2 linked regions of the Homo sapiens genome follow. The protein of the gene in region 2 interacts with the protein of the main gene of each other region in a pairwise test. Each region holds a gene or a part of one and is shown on either strand. Other genes may lie near its edges.

The links.
Region 1: the proteins of GREB1 (region 2) and HMMR interact in a two-hybrid assay, tested with the Homo sapiens proteins (one large-scale study listed by BioGRID and IntAct).

Annotation. Positions count from the first base shown.
Region 1 is NC_000005.10:163,484,384-163,488,202, reverse strand, and holds part of HMMR (hyaluronan mediated motility receptor), read right to left. Parts: intron 1-3,819. UniProt on the Homo sapiens protein: Receptor for hyaluronic acid (HA). Involved in cell motility. When hyaluronan binds to HMMR, the phosphorylation of a number of proteins, including PTK2/FAK1 occurs.
Region 2 is NC_000002.12:11,532,296-11,536,904, reverse strand, and holds the start of GREB1 (protein GREB1), read right to left. Parts: upstream 2,861-4,609; 5' UTR 2,651-2,860; intron 1-2,650. UniProt on the Homo sapiens protein: May play a role in estrogen-stimulated cell proliferation. Acts as a regulator of hormone-dependent cancer growth in breast and prostate cancers.

The sequences.
Region 1 (3,819 bases), on a different chromosome or scaffold from region 2:
ACCCCCACATCTAAAATAAAAGATGAAATTATAAAAAAGAAAAGTTCTTGGCCAGGTGCAGTGGCTCAAGCCTATAATCCCAGCATTTTGAGGCCAAAGCTGGTAGATTCCTTGAGCCCAGGAGCTCCAGACCAGCCTGGGCAACATGGCAAAACTCTGTCTCTACAAAAAGTAGAAAAATTAGCCGGATGTGGTGGCGCACGCCTGTAGTCCCAGCTACTTGGGAGGCTGAGGTGGGAGGATCACCTGAGCCCAGGGAGGTTGAGGCTGCAGTGAGCCGTGATTGCATCACTGCACTCTAGCCTGGTGACAGAGTGAGATCCTGTCTCTAAAAAAACCCAAAAACCAAACAAAAAAATAAAGTTCTTTCTCCACTAAAAATTTAAAAAAAGAAAGAAACTTAAAAAAAAAAGACTCAAATTACTAGAATCAGAAATAAAGAGAAGCCATTACTACTGACCTTACAGAAATAAAAAAAAGATTATAAAGGAATACTATGAACAATTATATACCAACAAATTAGGCACATTTATAGAAAGACATAAACTACTCAAGAAGAAAACCGAATCAAGAAGAAAGAGATAATCTGAATAAGCCTATATCAAGTAAAGATATTGAATTAGTAACCAAAAAATATTCACAAGAAAAACCAAGGTCCAGATGGCTTCACCAATAAATTCTACCACACATTCAATGAAGAATTAATACCAATTATTCAAAAACCATTCCACATAGAAAAGAGGGAACATTTCTCACTCATTTTGTGATGTCACCATTACCCTGATACCAAAATGAGACAGACATTAAAAAAACAAAAACAAAGCAAAGAAAACCTACAGACCAGTATATCTTAGGAATATGGCTGAAAAAAACCCCTCAGCAACATATAAAAATAATTATATGCCATAACCAAGTGAGATTTATCTCAGAAGGTTAGATTAATATCTAAAAATCAATTAATAAAATACATCATATCAACAGAATAAAAAAATTACATGATAATCTCAATAGAAATAGAAGAAGCACTTGATAGAATTCATTACCCTTTCATATAAAAATGCTCAACAAACTAGGAAACAGAAGGGAACTTCCTCAACTTGATAAAGAGCATCTATGACAAATCGACATCTTTGTTTTTTTTAGATTGTTTCGCTGTTGTCTCCCAGGCTCAATGGCTCCATCTCGGTTCACTGCAACCTCTGTCTTCTGGGTTCAAGCCATTCTCCTACCCAAGTAGCTGGGATTACAGGCGCCCGCCGCCACACCTAGCTAACTTTTGTATTTTTAGTAGAGACGAGGTTTCACCATGTTGGCCAGGCTGGTCTCAAACTCCTGACCTCAGGTGATCCACCTGCCTTGGCCTCCCAGAGTGCTGGGATTATAGGCGTAAGCCACCTCGGCTGGCCAACAAATCAACATCTAATAATGTCACGCTATATACATCATACAGGTAACATCATATATCATGGAGAAAGACTGAATGCTTTCCCCCTAGATCAGGAACAAAGCAAGGCTGTCCATCCATTTTCATTACTTCTAAATTCAACACTGTATTATACTACAGGTTTTAGCCAGAGATATTAGACAAGAAAAAGAAATAAAAGGCATCCAGATTGGAAAATAAGTAACACTATCTCTATTTGCAAAAGACATGATCTATAAGAACATCCTAAGGAATCCACTAAAAAACTATTAGAACTAAAATGAGTTTAGCAAGGGTGCAGGATACAAGATAAATATATTAAAATCAATTGTATTTCTATACACTGGCAATCAACAATCCAAAAATGAAATTAACAATTTCATTTACAAAACATCAAAAAGAATAAAATAGTAATAAATTTAACAAGAGAAGTGGAAAACTTATACTCTGAAAACTATAAAACATTGTTGAAAGAAATTAAATGAGATCTAAATAATTGGAAAAATATCCCATATTCATGTATTAGAAGACTTAACCTAGTGAAGATAATAATATGTCCCAAACTGATCTACAGATTCAATGCAATTCCCATCAGAATCCCAGCTGGTTTCTTTGTAGAAAAACTGATTCCAAAATTAATATAGAATTGCAAGAGGTCCAGAATAGACAAAACCATATTGAAAAATACAAAGAGGACTCACGCTTCCTGATTTCAAAACTTACTACAAAACAACAGTAATCAAGACAGTGTGGTGGCACAAGGATAGATGTATAGATCAATGGAAGACAGTTGAGAGTCTAGAAATAAATCCATACATGTACAGTCTAAATGATTTTTTAATTGGATGCTAACTCCATTAACTGGAGGCAAGAATATTCTCTTTAAAAAATAGTGTGGGGACTATTGCATGTCCACATGCTAAAGAATGAAGCTGGACCCTTACCTCACACCACATACAAAAATTAACTCAAAATCAATCAATAATCTAAATGTAAGAGCTAAAACTATAAATCTCTTAGAAGAAAACACAGGGGTAAATCTTCCTGACCTTGAATTTGGCAGAGGAGATAGATACCAAGGAACGAACAAACAAAAAAATAGACACACTGGACGTCATAAAAGTTTTTTGGGTCAAAGGACATCATCAAGAAAGTGAAAAGACAATGCACAGAATGGGAGAAGATATTCGCAAATAATACATAAGAGACTTGTGTCCAGAATTGATGAAGAATTCTCACAATAATAAAAAGACTAATAATCCAATTTAAAAATGAGCAGAGTATAAACAGACATTTCTTTCATGAAGATATACAAATGGCCAGTAAGCACATGAAAAGATGACCAACATCATTACCAATTAAGAAAATGCAAGTTAAGTTAATGAGATACCACTTCATACCCACTACAATGGCTAGGATAAAGAAGTCAGATAATAACAAATGTTGGTAAGAATGTGGAGAAATTGGAACCCTCGTACACCGCCTGTAGAATATAGATTGGTATGAGCCACTTTTGAATACAGCCTGACCTTTCTATGGCCATACCACCCTGAACGCACCCGATCTCATCTGAATGTAGTCTGATACTTCCTGAAATGATTAAATGTAGAGTTATCAAATGATCTGGCAATTTCCCTCCTATTATTTCCCAGGGAAATAATATGTCCCAGGAAAAAACAAATGTCCATACAAAAACTTGTACATGAATGTTTATGGTAGCATTATTCATAATAGCCAAAAATGTGCAAACAAGTGTTTATCAACTGACAAACGAATAAATAAAATGTGGTATACCCACATAATGAATTATTAGGCTATAAAAAAAATAAAGTACTCTCCATGCTACAACACAGGTGAATCTTGAAAATATTATGCTAATTGACTGAAAGAAGCCAGTAACAAAAGGCCACATATTATTTGAATCCATGAATATGCCAGGTCCACAATAGGGAAATCAACAGAGACAGAAAGTAGATTAGTGGTTTCTTAGGGCTGAAGGGTGGGGTGGGGTGAGGAGATAGGAGAGTGTTAGGAAAAGGATAACAAGGTTTCATTTTGAGGTGATGAAAATGTCCTAAAATTGACTATGGTGATGGTTGCACAAATCTGTGAGTATACTAAAAAACACTGAATTGTCCACTTTCAATGGGTGGATTGTATGGGTTGTCAATTATATCTCAATACATATGTTAAAAAATTTAAATGCCCAAATATTTTTGAACACTGCTTCTCTTTATGGTTTTACATCAAGGAGTTTGCAGTTTTGCAAATGGAAATAGATATGTAAAGCTTAATGAATTCATCCAATTACTCAAGTAATTTTCAATATATTAAGAAGGTAGCTAGAAAACTTTAGAACATTGAATGCCCATCTGGTCAACACTCTAAAATAAATC
Region 2 (4,609 bases):
TTCAACTGTGCTGTAAATTGCTAACTTTTAAAATTGATGTAACTTACTATTATGAGGAGAAAATTAGCAAAGTTTGCCTTCATTAGGTGTGAATTGCAATGACTTTGAACCCACTATGCTTTCTAATTACTGTCAAAAATAGGCTTTTGATGTGAAAATAGCAATGAGGTACCTAAAGAGGAGAGAGCTCACCTCCAGTGTTAACTCCATCTGCTGTGCGGCTCTCTTCTCAGTTTAAATCTGCAATTCTTTGCTTAATGCCAGTATCTCTTCTTGCCATAAATCTCTTTGTTCTATTCTATACATAATGCTCTTCTACCCCTGGCCAAATCCTCTCCACATTAAACATGACAATCATAGCCACAGTTTGGCACTTTTTGGCATTTTTCTCTTTTTGGCCACAATGGCTAGGAGTGATAACTTTCAAAAAGCAGAAAAGTCTCTACCTATCCAACAAAATGCTCTAGAAACTATATAACCACCATTAATAAATAAATATGGCTTGGCTTTTACAAAATGTTTCCCTGAGAGGTTTCCAGATCACTAGAGAAGACAAAGCTTTACTGGGACAAATCATGCGGGGTTGGTGCTGCTGGCACTGCCTGGTTGCTGACTGCCTGGGGCACAAGCAGTGCCTCCGTATCCTGTCACACCTCCGACTCTGCACATGCTGTGTTCCCGCTGCCTCATCCCTCAAGACCCAGTTCAAGCATCTCTTCAATTGTGTGGTGGTTCTGACCTCCCGAAACTGAGCTGGGCATTCTCTTTGTGTCCCCACCACTCCTGTGTATGCTCCAGGCTTGCGGTGGTCTCCCAGGACCATGGTTAATCTGTGTGCTTCCCTCTCTCCCCTGCTGCCTGGGATCCCCAGGAGAGCAGAGAACATGCAGATGTACGCCCTTGGCCAATCACAGTGCCTAGGAAATAGAAGGTATCTGATAAGAGTTTATTTACAAGGTAGTGTTTGCATTTTACAGGGAAAAAAAAAAGAGTTCAGGGCAGCAAGAAGAAAGAAGATGAACAATTCCGACATCCATATCCAGGCAAAATGTAGACAGCCCAGAGATTTCAGAGATTTAGTGGGCACGGTCAGGAAGTGGGGAAGATAAAACAAATCATGTAAGTGGGGCTAATGCAACCTTTTTCTATACTCGTGAAAACCCAAGGACCCAAGCCTTCCCATCTAGTTAAAGACTTTCCTCAGCCTCTCCCCTTGAATCACCGAATCCTAGACTCTCAGACCTAGAAGTAACCAAAGAACTCAATCAATGTATTTCAATCAACACACACCTTATTTCTCTATTATTTATTTATTATTATTTTTTAAGTGTCATCCTGTGTGCCAGGCACTGGAAACTCGAAGAGTAAAGTCCTTTCCTTGTAAAAATGCTGTTTAATGGAAACAGACATTTAGATTATGGTATGAGAATTAACTTCTAATTCAACATGGTACCTGGCCCTTCCTGAGATGACCTTCAAAAGATACTGAATTAAAAATAAATAAATAAATAAATAAATAAGTGGGGTGAGGTATTTTAAGCCACAGTGATGAAAAGATGGAAGGGATGCCATTAGCTAACTAGAGGTTCAGGTTTCATAAACTTCCAGAAGCCAGACTAGAGAGGGAATGTGGAGCTGACACAGGAGAAGGGTGCATACCTGGGGGGACCAACTGGCCCTGAGGAAATGCAGAGACTCAGATACGCCAGACAAGTGTTGGGAGGAGTGCACAGCAGCGCTGGGACCAGGGGTCTTCTGTGAAATCCTGTCTACAGAGCAGGTAGCTCCTCTACCTCCCACCCCAGGGCCACATGCAGATCTCCCAGGAGCCAGGCGTTCACCCCAGGCAAAAAATACCGAAAGCTCTTCTGATACAAATTGAATCAACCAACAAGAACTAGAGCCGCTAACGCACAGTCTGGCATTCAGAGGCCTCCAGAATGCCAGCTGATTCTGTCCTGAGCACCCCAAAAGTGACACCTGCCAGACACCAGCGCCCCCTGTGGACACAACACTCCCAGTCAACCTTCTCTGCCTCACTCTTAAACACACATGAAAATCCAAGGGTCATGTAGCACTTAAGGAAGGAAACATGAAAACAACATCCAGGAGAAGAAACAGAAGAAAAGACACCAAAGCAATCAGAGAACAACCAGGTATATGTGAAGAAGAAGCACACATCCCCCTCTAATTACCATCCTCAGGAAGACTGAGGGCCACACTCTGTTTCCCAACCAACCCAATCACTGAGCCACTCAACAATCACACAAGAGGAGCTCTCACGGGTGAGCCTGTTGATCTGGCTTTACTGCTGAGGGGCCCCCAGGTAAACTGAAGAGCTGTGCAGAAAGGCTGGGGGTATGAAAGCCGCACGCTCCCCACTTCAGCACACAGGGTCAGCAAGAGTTGCAGTGATGTTCCCACATACAGTCAGTTCAGCTATAACGCTTGTTTTGAAACTGCAAATTTGTACGGACAGATTGACATATTACAGAACAATTTGAATACCTTGTGGGTTTTGTGTGTGCCTGGTGATTTCCTCTGCAAGAAACACAAAAGTAAGTTCAGAAAAATGGTGCCCAACTGACCCCAGCTGCTTGAGAATATACAAAAGGCGCACACACACCAGCCTCAAGCACCTACCACCTACCTCCAGTCACCACACGTGTTAAAAGCCATGTCCTTCCACACATGGTGTCAGAACTTTCCATAGGGCTCCAGGTCTCTGTCCTTCTTCCATTTGGCAGGTCCTCAAGAGCTGCAAGCCTTCCATTGAAAAAACTTTATTTCATTTACCTTTGCACTTTGAGGTAAAATCCCATCTCTACTGCAGTATTTATGTATCTCTTAACCATTTAGCATGTGTAAAACGGTGCTGCCCTTTTTATTAGGTTTTTATCTTTTTAAAAAATGTGTCATTGATGAAGTTTTTGAGAGCTGTTGCCCTAAGCCTGTATTCGTCATAAACCCTGCGGTTTTTATTGCCCAATCTTGCATGGTGCAATAATTTTTAGGAACACATATATCAAGTTATAGTAGAATTGATTATGTGTTTACATTTCTGCCTGCAAGCTACAATTTTCTCCTAGGGGAGAACATGGCGGGAGAGCATGGTGTGCAGATTCTAGTTTAGAAAATATGGTCCACACAACTGAATTTCACACCAGTCACCCCTAGTTCATTGTTTCTGGCTACCCCAAAACGTTCATCACCGGCTTGCCTTTCTCCCTGCACTAAGCTAGAATCTCAAAGAACCAATTGTTGGGTTTTGTTGGTAGCAATCTGTGTATCATCCATTTTTTCCTCCATCAAACACAAAATTAAATTCAAGCATAAATAATGAAATTGTTGTTCCCGGCTTCTGTTTACAGAGTCTCAGGGACGCTGTGGAGCTGGGTGTGCCTGGGTCCAGTCCCTGCCCCCTCACCCACCGGAGCTGTGTGACCTTGGACAGCCTCCCTCACTCCCTGAGCTCCAGTTTCCTCAGCCATAAACAGAGATAACAGTGCTGACTTCAAAGCTGACTTTGTGAGGATTAAATGAGATAATGTAGTAGAGTATTTAGTACTGTGGCTGGCACTTCAGTGTTTTCCCATTTATCTGTTTTTTTCAAGATGAGTGATCTCTTTGCTGATCATAAACATATTCCTCCATCTGTCTTGTGTTATTCGCCTGCATTGAAATCCCATCCCAATCCCCGTCTCTATTTGAAAGTGGAGCTTAAAAATTGCAAAAATGAATAATTGGGATGTGCAAAACCTCTTAACTTGTAGCACCAAGTTTTTTGTCTCATGTTGATCAGTCTCTCTCTTCTTGCATTTCTCTCCCATTAGTTTGGAGTTGCCATTCATTCCTTCATTTATTCATTCACTCAACAAACATTTATGGGTGCCTGGTATCTACTGGCTATGTGACTGACTTAACTTCCCAGAGCCTCAGTTTTCTTGGCAAAATGAAGATAATAATACCTCTATCATAAGGTTGTTGGAAGGCTTTCCATGACACCAGGACCGTAAAGCACCTTTTACACCGTCTGCCATATGGCAGGTGCTCAACAAAGGATATCTTTAAGCAGTATCATCACGATGACAATGGACAAGCCATATCCCTAACAGGGCTTAAACCTGGATAACAAGAACACTGTTTCCACTGCGCTAGTGGGGACAAGCACACACATCGCTGGGAAGATCTGCAAGCCTCCCTCCTCCCACAGACCCAAACATGCTGCTGCAAATGTCTCACTGGCTACAAAACAATGAGTCTGATTACGACCCACAGAAATGAAAAGGCAGCAAACTTGTTTAGGTATGATTCATCATTGTCTGCTGCGGCAATCAGAAGTATTTTGGTTGCTTCTAGGTCAGAATGACCCAGTTGCCACACTTTTTTTCACTGCTAAAGTTCGTAATGAACCTTTAAACAAAAACTAAAGGCGTAAGGAAAGATAACTACTTTGTGGCTTTTGCTCAAAGTGAGGACGTTATCAGCTCTGCCCTTCAGAAGCAAGCCCTGATCAAGGAAACCATTCACACTTGATTTTCTTTATTTTATTGGCCACAATTGAACATAGGTATAATTTTCATGAACCTCCCTCGCTCCAAGACCAGAG